Regions from separate parts of the Homo sapiens genome. Here regions 1 and 2 are each linked to region 3. Evidence: fine-mapped expression QTL. A gene starts in region 3. Each other region holds a variant in brackets. All regions are shown on one strand. Distances are from middle to middle. Region 1 overlaps POU6F1 (POU class 6 homeobox 1). Region 2 overlaps HIGD1C (HIG1 hypoxia inducible domain family member 1C). Region 3 holds the start of TFCP2 (transcription factor CP2).

Region 1 (4,221 bases), 27 kb before region 3:
AAGCTGAGGCATGTGGATTGCTCGAGCTCAGGAGTTCGAGACCAGCCTGGGCAACATGGCAAAACTCTGTCTCTACAAAAAAATACAAAAATTAGCCAGGTGTGGTGGCACATGCCTGTAGTTCCAGCTACTCTGGAGGCTGATGTGGGAGGATCACTTGAGCTTGGGAAGTGGAGGTTACAGTGAGGCGAGATTGCGCCACTGCACTCCAGCCTGGGTGATAGAGTGAGACCTTGTCTCAGAAAAAAAAAAAAAAAAACAACTATATTGAGTGGTGCTGTGGAGAAACAGGTACATTGTTGATGTTTCTGTGAGTTCATTTAGTCTTTCTGTACAGTCTTGCAGGAAGCAATAGCAGCCCTAATGTATGTAAAACCTTGGACTCCATGGTCCTACTAAATATGCCCTAATAAAATGAATATTTTGCTTCTTTAGAGGGTAAGCTTTCATCATTTATGTTTGTCACTTTCCCATTTTCTCACTTACTTGTTATGCTTTGTCACATTTTGTCCAACAAAATGTTTTTAAAATTTTCACATGTTCAGACTCTCCTTATGTTTGCTAATTTTTTTGTTTTTTTTTTAACTCATTTTTATTTTTTCTGTAGAGATAGCATCTTGTTTTGTTGCCCAGGCTGGTCTGGTAACTCCTGGCTTCAAGTGATGCTACCACCTCAGCCTCCCAAAGTGCTGGGATTACAGGCGTGGGCTACTGCACCCAGCCTGATTTTTTTTCTGGAGTTAGAAATGTATCTTCCCTCCACAGAGGAGATAAACCTGTCATTTTGTTTTCTTTTACTATTTCATAAGGCCTTTGTTGGTGTGTGCTTGTCTCTTGAATTCCTTAAACTACCTGGGTTTTATTATTGCATGCTGTGAACAGTATAGTCCTGAGTTGAGGTTGACGCCTTCCCAAGTTGAAACATGGACTAGTACTGCAGGGTTGGACAGAACCTTTGCGGTTATCTGATTCAGTGGTTCCCACTCTTGGCCATATCGCAGGGGGAGCTTTGAAGGAAAAAAGAGAGGTGAGGTAACTAGCCTCCACTACTGGACATTCTGATTCAGTAGGCCTGGATTAAAGCCTAGAAATATATGCCCAGCAGTTTTAAGAAGCCATTGATCTGGCCAGGCGCGGTGACTCATGCCTGTAATCCCAGCACTTCGGGAGGCTGAGGCGGGCACATCACTTGAGGTCAGGAGTTCGAGACTAGCCTGACCAACATGGTGAAAACCCATCTCTCCTAAAAATACAAGAAAAAAATTAGCCAGGCGTGGTGGTATGCGCCTGTAATCTCAACTGCTTGGGAGGCTGAAGCAGAAGAACCCCTTGAGCCCCGGAGGCAGAGATTGCAGTGAGCAGAAGTCACACCACTGCACTCCAGCATGGGTGACAGAGCAAGACTCCATCTCAAAAAAAATTAAATTAAAATAAAAAGAAGCCAGTGATCTGGTCCTATATCCATCACTCAACTCCTAGGCTCCTTTTAACTAACCATATATTAAATAATAACCCTTCTCCTCGTTGTATGGCTGTGAAGAAGTTTCCTGGTGGGGTACCCCAGTACGTGTGTAGGCTAAGGTACCAAGAGAAGGCAAAAAGCTGCAGGTCACGGGAAATTCATTTAGAAGCTCACTGAAGCTGCTCACATGACTTTAGACCTCCGGGAATAGCAGAGAAAAGCTGGCTGTCCTGGAGAGCCCCTGTGATCCTGTAGTGCAGCACAGACCTGTCCAATTTTCAGGGACTGTTGCTTCCAGGACTTTGCCCTTCAGGAACTCCTGCCCTTTCAGCAGCTGCATCCAAAAGTACCCTGGAGGTGGATGAACAGCGATTCAGTGGCAGGATGAACCAAGGACAGCCGCTCCCATCATTTCTAGCTCCGGCCCTCCCTGACACACGTGTGCTTCAGACTCCTCTGTTGATGATGTGACAGTCCTTACAGGGCCAGGAAATGAGGGCTAACACTCACCTGGGTATCTTCTTCAGCTAGATGTGAGAAGGGGTGGCCTACCTCCCAGAGCTGGCACAGGGCTCCCCAGCCTCCTGTCCTCACCACCGTAGCATTCAGGAAGCTGCCTCATGGGCCAGGGAAGACCAACAATTGGTCTTGGGCTATGTAGCAATGCAGCATGGGGCTGAGGGTCCCCGCTTCAGGCTGCAGATGGGATGTCATGTACTGCTGTGGTGACCCCTCCACTCACGTCAGGCTCACTCCTTGTCCTTCTTTCTCTCAATGCCTTGTGAAGTGAAGTCACCCCCGGGGATCCCTCCGAGCCCTGCCACTGCCATTGCCACCTTCAGCCAAGCCCCAAGCCAGCCTCAGGCATCGCAGACCCTGACGCCACTGGCTGTACAAGCTGCCCCCCAGGTAAGGGCTGCCCTCGGGAGCTGGACAGAAGGCCGGGGGCAGGAGCGAGGCATGGGACAGCCAGCATGGGGAAGCCATGGAATCTGGGAACTTCATGGGGGCAGGACAGGGAAGGGGCTATGGCTTGAGGGAGGGACTCTCCCACTAGGCACATCCAGCCTCACCCCTGCCTAGATCAGGCCCATTTGGAAAAGGGGATCTACATTTGCAGAATCAT[C/T]TCCTTGGGCCTGCCAGGATTGCAGAAATAACATTAACTCTTTCACGCAGCCAGAGTTTCTGTTTATCAAATGACTAAATGAATGAATACCCTTGCCGGCCCTCCAGTGGATGCCTGTAAGAGTTAATGGATTGTTCAGAGTCCTCATTTAGAGCCAGGGAGTGGCCCCAGCACCATGAGAGGCTGCCTTCAGGATCCTGCAGGCAGGCAGAGCTCCCTGTCCCTTTCGCTACATTCCCTGACTCCAAGGCATCCAGCCAAGGGTATGGTCCTTCAGAAACTTCTCGGAGGCCTCTGTGGGGCCTTGACCACTTGGTTCCATTAGCCTCTGCGGGGCCTTGACCACTTGGTTCCATTAGCCTCTGCGGGGCCTTGACCACTTGGTTCCATCAGCCTCTGCTCCCTGTTCCCTGGCCACTAAGCACGGGGCCTGTCAGCAAGGGCTCGCGGAAGGCCTGGCAGGCAGCAGGCTGTGGTGGGGGAGGCCTGTGCCCCCTTCCCATCCTGTGAGCAGGGCCGCCTTGCCCTGGATTTAGGCGACTTCTCTGAAGGCAGGATAGTCGGTCCAGGCACCCCCTCAGGTTTGGGCCTCCAGCTAGGGTTTGGCTCTTCCCCATCCTCATGTGGCCTTCGGCCCATCGCCCTCAGAATGCTTTGTTTGTGCTCAGCTGGGTCTCAGAGACCCAGTGTTTGCGCTGTCAATGTTGATTTTTTATTTTTTCTTTTCTTTTTGAAATCTTGTTTGCTTTTGCAGGTCTTGACTCAGGAAAACTTAGCCACAGTTCTGACAGGAGTTATGGTTCCAGCAGGGGCAGTTACTCAACCTCTTCTTATCCCCATCAGTATTGCAGGTCAAGTGGCTGGTCAGCAGGGGCTGGCCGTGTGGACAATTCCTACAGCAACTGTGGCTGCCCTCCCAGGACTGACCGCTGCTTCTCCTACGGGGGGAGTGTTCAAGCCACCTTTAGCCGGTCTCCAAGGTAACGGCAACTCTTCCCAGGACTGCACCAGGCCCCCCACCCTCTACTACACCCCCGCACGTGTGCTTGCCATGTCGGACTCAGAACCCACGGCCCACCCAGGGCAACCGCCCTGGAGTCTGGATCCGGTGTCTTGGGCATCCGGCCGCAGAGCTGCTGCACCACCTCGGGACTGTAGGCCGTGACGCCACGCTGGCCCCGCAGGCCTGCCGTACTTCGGCCAGCTGTCTGAGACTGCCCCTCTCCCCCCACGCCAGAACTCACCCCATGACCGGCCTCCTGGGAAGGACTACAAGAAGATTCAACGTCTGGTTCTTGAACCTACACATCTCCTGGCCCCAGGGAGGGGGGATAAGAGATGCTGGCGTGCGCCAGCCCTTCAAGGATCAAGGGAATCGTGGCTGCCTGCCCCACTGAGCCCACTGCCCCAACCCCCTCTCCTTCTTGTGCCAGATCCCTTGGGATTGGAGCCGCTGTGAGCAGTGGCTAGGCATTTGAGCACCTCTGTCTCTGCCTTGCTCCATAGCAGCTGCTGTGCTGAACACCGCTCTTCCGGCACCGGTACAAGCTGCCGCACCAGTACAGGCCTCCTCGACGGCCCAACCCCGGCCACCAGCCCAGCCCCAGACGCTGTTCCAGACCCAGCCGCTGCT
Region 2 (4,221 bases), 220 kb after region 3:
GCCACTGCACTCCAGCCTGGGCAACAGAGCAAGACTCCGTCTAAAAAAAAAAAAAAAAAAGATTATTTTAGCTTTTCTAGGACTTGTGCCTTTCCATATAAGATTTAGAATAAGTTTGTCTATGTCTACCAAAAACCTTGCTGGGGTTTTGACAGGAATTACATTAAGCCTGTAGATAAACTTGGGGAGAATTGACATCTTTACCAATATACAGTGCCTTCCAATTCAGGAACACAGGATCAGGCATGGTAGCTCATGCCTGTAATGCCAGCACTTTGGCAGGCCAAGGCAGGCATATCACTTGAGGTCAGAAGTTCGGGACCAGCCTGGCCAAAATGGTAAAACCCTGCCTCTACTACACACACACACACACACACACACACACACACACACACACACACACACCTCCAATTCATGAATACAGTAGTCTCTCCATTTTTGTTTTGTTTTTTTTCTTCAGACAGGGTCTCACTCTGTTGCCCAAGGCTGGAGTGCAGTGGCATGATCTCGGCTCACTGCAACCCCCACCTCCAGGGTTCAAGCGATTCTCCTGTCTCAGCCTCTTGAGTAGCTGGGATTACAGGTGCATGCCACCACACCTGGCTAATTTTTGTATTTTTAGTAGACATGGGGTTTTGCCATGTTGGCCAGGCTGGTCTCGAACTCCTTACCTCAGGTGGTCTGCCCACCTCGGCCTCCCAAAGTGCTGGGATTATAGGCGTGAGCCACCATGCCTGGTTGGTATTATGTTTTTAGTTTCAGTTTCCAGATGCTTCTTGTTAGTATATAGAAATGCAAATTTTAATCTAAATGTAAGGATCGATTAAAAGAAGAAATGCAGGCTGGGTGGGCATGGTGGCTCATTCCTGTAATCCCAGCACTTTGGGAGGCTGAGACTGATGGATCACTTGAGGTCAGGAGTTTGAGACCAGCCTGGTCAACATGGTAAAACCCTGTCTCTACTAAAAATACAAAAATTAGCCAGGTGTGGTGGCGCATGCTTACTCAGGAAGCTGAAGCACGAGAATCGCTTGAGCCCAGGAGGTGGAGGTTGTAGTGAGCCAGGATTGTGCTATTGCGCTCCAGCCTGGGCGACAGAGGGAAACTCTGTCTTTAAAAAAAAAAAGAAAAAAAAGCAAGTAATTTTTATGTGGATAGCATGTTTGGAATAACTATGTTGGCATATGTGTGTCTATGGGTGGGTAAGGATATATTTATTCTTTCATGATCCATTTAATAAATGGAAATAAGAATCAGTAAATCATTACATTTACATGTATATTTTATACACTGATCCACAATAAATAAAAATGACTAATGTGCTACAGACATAAAAACAGCAAAAAAAAAAATAACAAAATGATGATGGTAGACATATGAGGAAACAGGTAAAACCCTGAAAGCTCTGTAAGTTTGGCCAAGTCCTTCTAGAAAGAACTCTGGAAATATATAACAAATGATATTAAACTGAACATGCTTCCTGCTCTGGAAATTCTACTTCTGGGAACATACTCCAAGGAAATAACCAAAAGAAAAATCAAGAAAATGACACAAAGATGTTCAGGGCTACACTATGTTTGAGGAAAACCTAAATAACCCAAACAGAAGAAAAACTGCCATTGCTATAAAAATAAATAAGAATAGGGAGTATTAATACACAGAAATGCACGTATGAGCTGTTAAGTGAAACAAGCAAAGCCAAATAATCTGTCAACACATACTTTAAATAGATATAATGCATGCAGAGACCTTAACAGTGATTGTAAGATGATTTGAACAGTGTAAATATATTTATAATGATGGAAGTTGCTTAAGATAACCAACAAAAAATGTTTTGTAA[G/A]TTACCTGCATAGGACCCTCCATCCTGTAGCAGGAAAATACATAGTAGATATTGTTAAAATGACAATAGCTAAACAAATTATTCAATGATATATATCCAATTTTTTTTTCTAAGATGGAGTCTCGCTCTGTTGCCCAGGCTGGAGTGCAGTGGCGCAATCTTGGCTCACTGCAACCTCCACTTCCTGAGTTCAAGTGATTCTCCCGCCTCAGCCTCCTGAGGAGCTGGGACTACAGGCGCCTGCCACCACACCCAGCTAATTTTTGTATTTTTAGTAGAGACAGGGTTTCACCACATTAGCCAGGCTGGTCTCAAACTCCTGATTTCAAGTGATCCACCCACCTTGGCCTGCCAAAGTGTTGGGATTACAGGCATGAGCCACTGTGCCCAGCCTACCAAATTTTATCATTATTTATTTTTTAGCAAAAACTTATCTCTATTCCCTTAATCAAATGAAAGTTCTGTTCTTACTTAAATTGGTTTTGTTTCTTTTGGAGATTAAAGTCAGAACCTTTACTGTTTTCCATATAGTGTCTCTAGTTTGTTTATAATTGAATTTAGCTGGAAACACTTTTATCTTTCCACTTTAATCATCCTAAATGTCTCTGGAAAAATAATTTAATATACAACAGGCACAGTGGTGCGTATGTCTCTTTGTCTCTGTTTATTAATTAATTTCTGTTCATTATAGTGATCTGTTCAAGTAGCATTGAGTTTTCGAATTTTTTTTAACTAAAAATGCTAAGGAAGATAAATCACTATTAAATTATTTGCTTCCATTTCTTATGGGTGCTATTATAAGTCTTAAAACTTCTAAACAGAATATTACTGTAAAGTAAAATTTGATTCTTTCTTGATATGTGAATAATGACACTTAGGAAGTTGCTAGAGTCAGAGTAACACTTAACGGGAACATCTGACATACCTATTTAGAAGTTTTTATGGAATTAATATTTTTGCAAACTTATGTCAGTCTGATTTAAGTAAACTATTTTAATAGTTTCCAGACAAAATGAACACAAGGAAACAGGCATGGCTGCAGTATACATCCATGGAGAAGAAAGAGAAAGCTCAGACTTCAAAACATAATATTGGTGCTTAGGTTTTGTGGGGTTTTTTAAAGTCCACATACACATAATACTTGTTGAAAATGTAAACATACTAAATATGTGTGGGGAAAGGATAAAGAGGCTAAGGGTCCAGATTATTAGGTGATCTAATTATAGTATCTCTCTTTTTTATTTTTTGAGATGGAGTCTCGCTCTGCACCCAACCTCTACCTCCCGGGTTCAAGTGATTCTGGTGCCTCAGCCTCCTGAGTAGCTGGGATTACAGGTGTGTGCCACAATGCCCAGCCAACTTTTTGTATTTTTAGTAGAGATGGGGTTTCACCCTATTGGCCAGGCTGGTCTTGAATTCCTGACCTCAAGTGATCCACCTGCCTCGGCCTCTCAAAGTGCTGGGATTACAGGAGTGAGCCACTGTGCCCGGCCTAATTATAGTATCACTTCTTTAGTCCAGAATTTATTTTGCCATCAAACTCAACACCTGGAGCACACCAAGAAGCCAGCACAGAGGGCCACTGAGCAGCCAAAATGACCACTCCAAAGTTCATGCTCACAAGTGTTCAGATAGATCCAGGCTTTTACTCAGAGCTTTCCTCTGAATTGACCCACAGTTCTTTCAAGCTTGGTTATCTAGCTTCTGGTGCTACAGAGCATTAAAAACATTAGATGCAGAAGTTTTTGGTTTTTTGTTTATTTGTTTGTTTGTTTTTGAGACAGGGTCTCACTATGTCACCCAGGCTGAAGTGCAGTGGTGTGATCTTGGCTCACCGCAACCTGCACCTCCTGAGCTCAAGCAATCCTCCCACCTCGGCCTCCCAAAGCGCTGGGATTACAGGCATGAGCCACCGTGCCCGGCCTAGAAGCAGAAGTTTTTAATGTGCCCAATAGTAAGATAGAAACAGAAAAATCTATAAACAGAAGATGTAAGAACTTAAAGTTTAGATTACTTACAAGACAAAGAGACATATGCATCTCAATAGTCCCTAATAGGCTTTAAATATAATAAACTGATGCTGCTGTTGATGGTCCTGAGTTATGACTGAAATGTTAATATTCATTCAATCTATTCCATTTGACTGGCTAGGAACTAATAATTTTAGGTAGACTTCTAATGAAATGGATAAAATAGAATAAAATTTGATGCCTCAAATAACAGCTAACATTTACTGGGGGCTTACCATGTATTAGGAACTATTCTGAAAGTTCAACACATGCTTAGAGGAGGTTAGCTTCAATTATCTGAAAAAATTCAATTATAAGAAACATTTCAATCCGCAAAGGCACTGGGTAAGGCATCATTGTGTTATTACAGTT
Region 3 (4,221 bases):
CCATGTGACATCTCTCTTTTTGTCTATGAGCCCAGGACCCATTCCTTTATCCACAGTCACACATTTTGAGATAGAACTGGCTCATGGGAAGAAAAGATGGCTTAAAGAGATACTGAATGTCTCCAGAATGAGCTAAGACTTTGATCCTAGGGCTTACCAAGGTAAGACGGCAGGTTTAAGCCTGGAGCCTTCAGAGAGATGCCTGTGGCTGAAACACCCCATACCAGCACAACATGTTGCCATCTTCATGTCAACTTCTCTCTTTTTCTTGGTTCTCTTATTCCTTTTTCATTCCTTTTTAAATTCAATAAACATGTTTAAAAGTCCTGTTGAAAGCAGGAACTATAGTAGGAGATATTTAGAACGCAAGCCTGAAAAAGACCTATTCCTTATTCTTTAGATCAATCTAGTGAGAGAGGCAGATATATACAAAAGTATAAGTCAAGGCAGATTTTAAAAAATTCAGCAACGGAATACAACAATGAACCAAGACTTTCACATAAAGGCAATGTCTTGTAACGAAAAATGCCAGGCTTTGGAATCAGCTCTGAAGCTGGCATGTCAATTTAGCTCCGGCCAATTTAAGGGCTTAGCCTTGGTTTCTTACTGATAAAATAAGAGTCATTAAATTTAGCTTTATAATTCTAATTCCAAGATCGCTTTGAGGACTACTCATAGTGTAATAAAGTTCCTAGCAGTAGTTGATACTTAATAAACAATGGCCATTATTACTCAATCCTCAAAGGAGGAAGGTGGAGCAGATAAAGTTACTCCCACTCCCGTTTACAAACGAGGAAGCTAAATCTGTGACATTAAGCAATTGTTCTGAAGACACCAAAGTAGCAAATGAAGACGCCAGCCTAAACTCTGATTTTCAGATCTTTTAAATTCCAACACCCCATACCAGCACAACAACCTTTTAAAAACCACTGTTTTTTTTTTTTTTTTTTTTTTTTTTTTTTTTTTTTTTGAGACGGAGTTTCACTTTTGTTGCCCAGGCTGGAGTGCAATGGCGCGATCTCGGCTCACTGCAACCTCCGCCTCCTGGGTTCAAGAGATTCTCCTGCCTCAGCCTCCCGAGTAGCTGGGATTACAGGCCCGCGCCACCACACCTAGCTAATTTTTGTATTTTTAGTAGAGACGGGGTTTCTCCATGTTGGTCAGGCTGGTCTTGAACTCCCGACCTCAGGTGATCCGCCCGCCTCGGCCTCCCAAAGTGCTGGGATTACAGGCGTGAGCCACCGCGCCCGGCCTAAAAACCACATTTTTACTGATCTCATGCTTTTCTGTTCAAATGCATTAGAGAGGATGCCGAAGATAAAATGAATATACAGGGAAGTGGGACTTATGCAGGGTCTTGACCTCCGGAGAGGTGAGTTTAAGGAGACAGGAGTATGGGCAGGAGCAAGCGCACACACGTAAGGAGCGTTTGGGAAGCCGTCAAGAGTCCGCCAGGGGTGGAGTGGGTTCATAAGGCTAGAAGAAGGGCTCCTTCCATGGCTCAGGGTGACGACTTGATGGGTAGCGAATACCAGAACTCTGGTAACTACACGGATACACGTTTAAACCCGGACACTTGCACGCCGGGTCCTCCCCGTGATCGCCCAGCCCATCTCGGGGGCAGAGCCGTGGCGCAGCCCGCCTATCATCGCTGCCGAGACTGACGCGGTCTCTTCTTTATAGGCGAACGACAGCGTGACGTCATGTTCGCCGGGCAGGCGAGGAAAGAGGACGCCATGATTGGTTGGCGCTGGGGCGGCGGACGGTGGAAGGGCCTGGCGAGTCTAGGTTTTACGCCTGTGCTGGACTTTCTCCTTCCATGTTTCCAGGCCGTGGGGGGCTACAGAGGGCGAGAAGTCGGCTCAGCGGAAACCTGGATTTGGTTCTAAGCCGTGGGGTTGAGAAGGGGTGACCGGAAGTGATCGTGGGACTGACCGGAAGCGAGGCCTGGAGGGGAAAGAGAGAGCGAGACCTGGGAGGGAGGGGGCCTCCAGCAGAAAGGGGCGGGGGAAAAGGTGCAAAAGCAGCGTGGGAGCGCCGGGCTGGCTTCCTGCGGCTGCTGCTGGTCTGACTGGGAAGCAGCAAGCCACCACTACGAACTCTCAAGAGGAGTGGGAGTGCGGGAGTCCAGAGCTGCCTCTGGGAAGTCTGCAGTAGTTGAGCAAAGGGGTCCTCACGTTCCTGAGAGCTGGGCAGGGGGGATTTTGGAACCTGGGGCAGCCAAGAACGAGCAGCCAAGGGTACGGGAGATTAGTTGTGCACAGAGCAGTGCTGGTCGGGCTTGGGGGTGGCTGGTGGGCACTGCGTGGGAAACCTTGGTTTGTAGTTTTCTTGGTTTGCGTTACTCCTGTTGGGTAGAATTACCCTCCGCGCCTTTGTACAAGACACGGTGTCTCCTGGGGCAAGGAAGGAGCCAGGATGGCCTGGGCTCTGAAGCTGCCTCTGGCCGACGAAGTGATTGAATCCGGGTTGGTGCAGGACTTTGATGCTAGCCTGTCCGGGATCGGCCAGGAACTGGGTGCTGGTGCCTATAGCATGAGGTGAGTGAGATTTTCCCAGACCCTACACCTTCTGAATAACAAAGGCGGATAGACACTAAGAAAAGGGGTTGAGTGGGAAGGAGGTGTATAGAGTTTTAAAAAGCTGTTTACGATTGGGGAAAAGGGACTTGTTCTTTTGTCGCTTTGAGTAGTTAGTGTTGTGGAAGAAATGGAAAAAGCGATTGTAGGCGATATGAAGCCTGTGCAGAATCAGTGGAAGAAGGAAGTGGTCCCTGATTAGTAACCAGATGAATGTTGAGAGGCTTTTGTGCCAATGTGGGAGACTTGGGGACTGATGGTGTATGTGTGGGTAAGTCTGACGTTGTGTGAAGAAGGGTTACATATAGCATAGGAATGGTATCTAGGAAGTTGGGAAATTGGGAGCTGGTGCTTAATGATGAATATTGGTTCGTTTCTTGTTGGAAAGATATGGAAGTCCTTGATGAAGAAGTCCGTACAGCTCTATCTTACCACTAGCTTGCTTTAAGACTTTACTTAATTCTGGGATTTCTGACTTTTAAAACATAAGCTGTGAAATGAAAAAGTGACGAAGAAAACTTAAGATGCTTCTGGATCTTTATGTATCAAGCCAGTTGTTGATAACAGATGAAAAATCTCCTTTCGGCCGGGTGCGGTGGCTCACGCCTGTAATCCCAGCGCTTTGGGAGGCTGAGGCGGGCGGATCACTTGAGCTCAGGAGTTCGAGACCATCGTGGCCAACGTGGTGAAACCCCGTCTCTACTAAAAATACAAAAATTAGCCGGGTGTGGTGGCGCGGGCCTGTAATCCCAGCCACTCGGGAGGCTGAGGCAGGAGAATCGCTTGAACCCGGGAGGCGGAGGTTGCAGTGAGCAGAGATGGTGTCATTGCACTCCAGCCTGGGCAACAAAGTGAGACTCCATTTGAAAAACAAAGCAAAACAAAACAAAAACTCCTTTGAAAGCAACATTATTGCCTATATAACTTGTTGCATGCATTGGCTGCTTCATTCCTCCAGTATAGTTTATTTCATTTATAGATGTGTAAGAATCCTGTATGGAAATGTTGAAACAGCTGCATCTTAGGGGTAGATGGACTATAATTGGGTTTCCTAATGCATTATTAAGACTTAATCTAAATAAGTGAGTCAAGAGACTAGAACTTAACATTTTCATTGGGTTTATGAGTTCATAGGGGAAAGATGCTTTTTAGGGGGAAAGTAGATGCATTTTTCATTCTGATAATGAGATCTTTTAAGAGTTATATAAAGTTCCTTTATTCCTGCCAATTCAAAGTAGACTTACCTCACTGAAGTAAAATTATGAGTTAGAATTTAATACTTCAGGCCGGGCACGGTGGCTCATGCCTGTAATCCCAGCACTTTGGTAGGCTGAGGTGGGCGGATCACGAGGTCAGGAGTTCGAGAACAGCCTGGCCAACATGGTGAAACCCCGTCTCTACTAAAAATTCAAAAAATTAGACGGGTGTGGTGGCGCACGCCTGTAATCCCAGCTACTTGGGAGGCTGAGGCAGGAGAATTGCTTGAACCGGGAGGCGGAGGTTGCAGTGAGCAGAGATCGCATCATTGCACTCCAGCTTAGGCAACAAGAGTAAAACTCCGTCTCAAAAAAAAAAAGGGGGAGAGAATTTAATACTTCAGCATCTTCAGGAATCTTTACTTAGAATAATAAAGACTATTATT

What was found. PIP is the estimated chance that this variant, and not a neighbour inherited with it, causes the effect. A credible set is the group of variants that fine-mapping cannot tell apart.
Region 1: its variant is the best candidate, but not a certain one, in a credible set for the expression of TFCP2 in whole blood (TOPMed, PIP 0.68).
Region 2: its variant is the best candidate, but not a certain one, in a credible set for the expression of TFCP2 in whole blood (INTERVAL, PIP 0.71).

What each region holds. Positions count from the first base shown.
Region 1 is chr12:51,197,897-51,202,117 of GRCh38, reverse strand. It overlaps POU6F1 (POU class 6 homeobox 1), which reads left to right. Exons shown (of 11, transcript NM_001330422.2): 4 at 2,250-2,371; 5 at 3,343-3,568; 6 at 4,095-4,221. Among named protein-coding and RNA genes, the nearest start is that of POU6F1, 18 kb to the left of the region's middle. RefSeq lists an enhancer at 1,805-2,304. The variant C/T (reference allele first, on the strand shown) is at 2,589.
Region 2 is chr12:50,954,122-50,958,342 of GRCh38, reverse strand. The region is part of intron 3 of HIGD1C (HIG1 hypoxia inducible domain family member 1C); the gene reads right to left. It also overlaps a transcript of SLC11A2 not described here. Among named protein-coding and RNA genes, the nearest start is that of HIGD1C, 3.7 kb to the right of the region's middle. The variant G/A (reference allele first, on the strand shown) is at 1,841.
Region 3 is chr12:51,170,620-51,174,840 of GRCh38, reverse strand. It overlaps TFCP2 (transcription factor CP2), which reads left to right and starts at 1,706. Exons shown (of 15, transcript NM_005653.5): 1 at 1,706-2,540. The coding sequence starts at 2,419. It overlaps LOC124902933 (a long non-coding RNA gene), which reads right to left and starts at 286. Exons shown (of 2, transcript XR_007063307.1): 1 at 158-286. RefSeq lists enhancers at 1,384-1,433, 1,526-2,273, 2,374-2,423.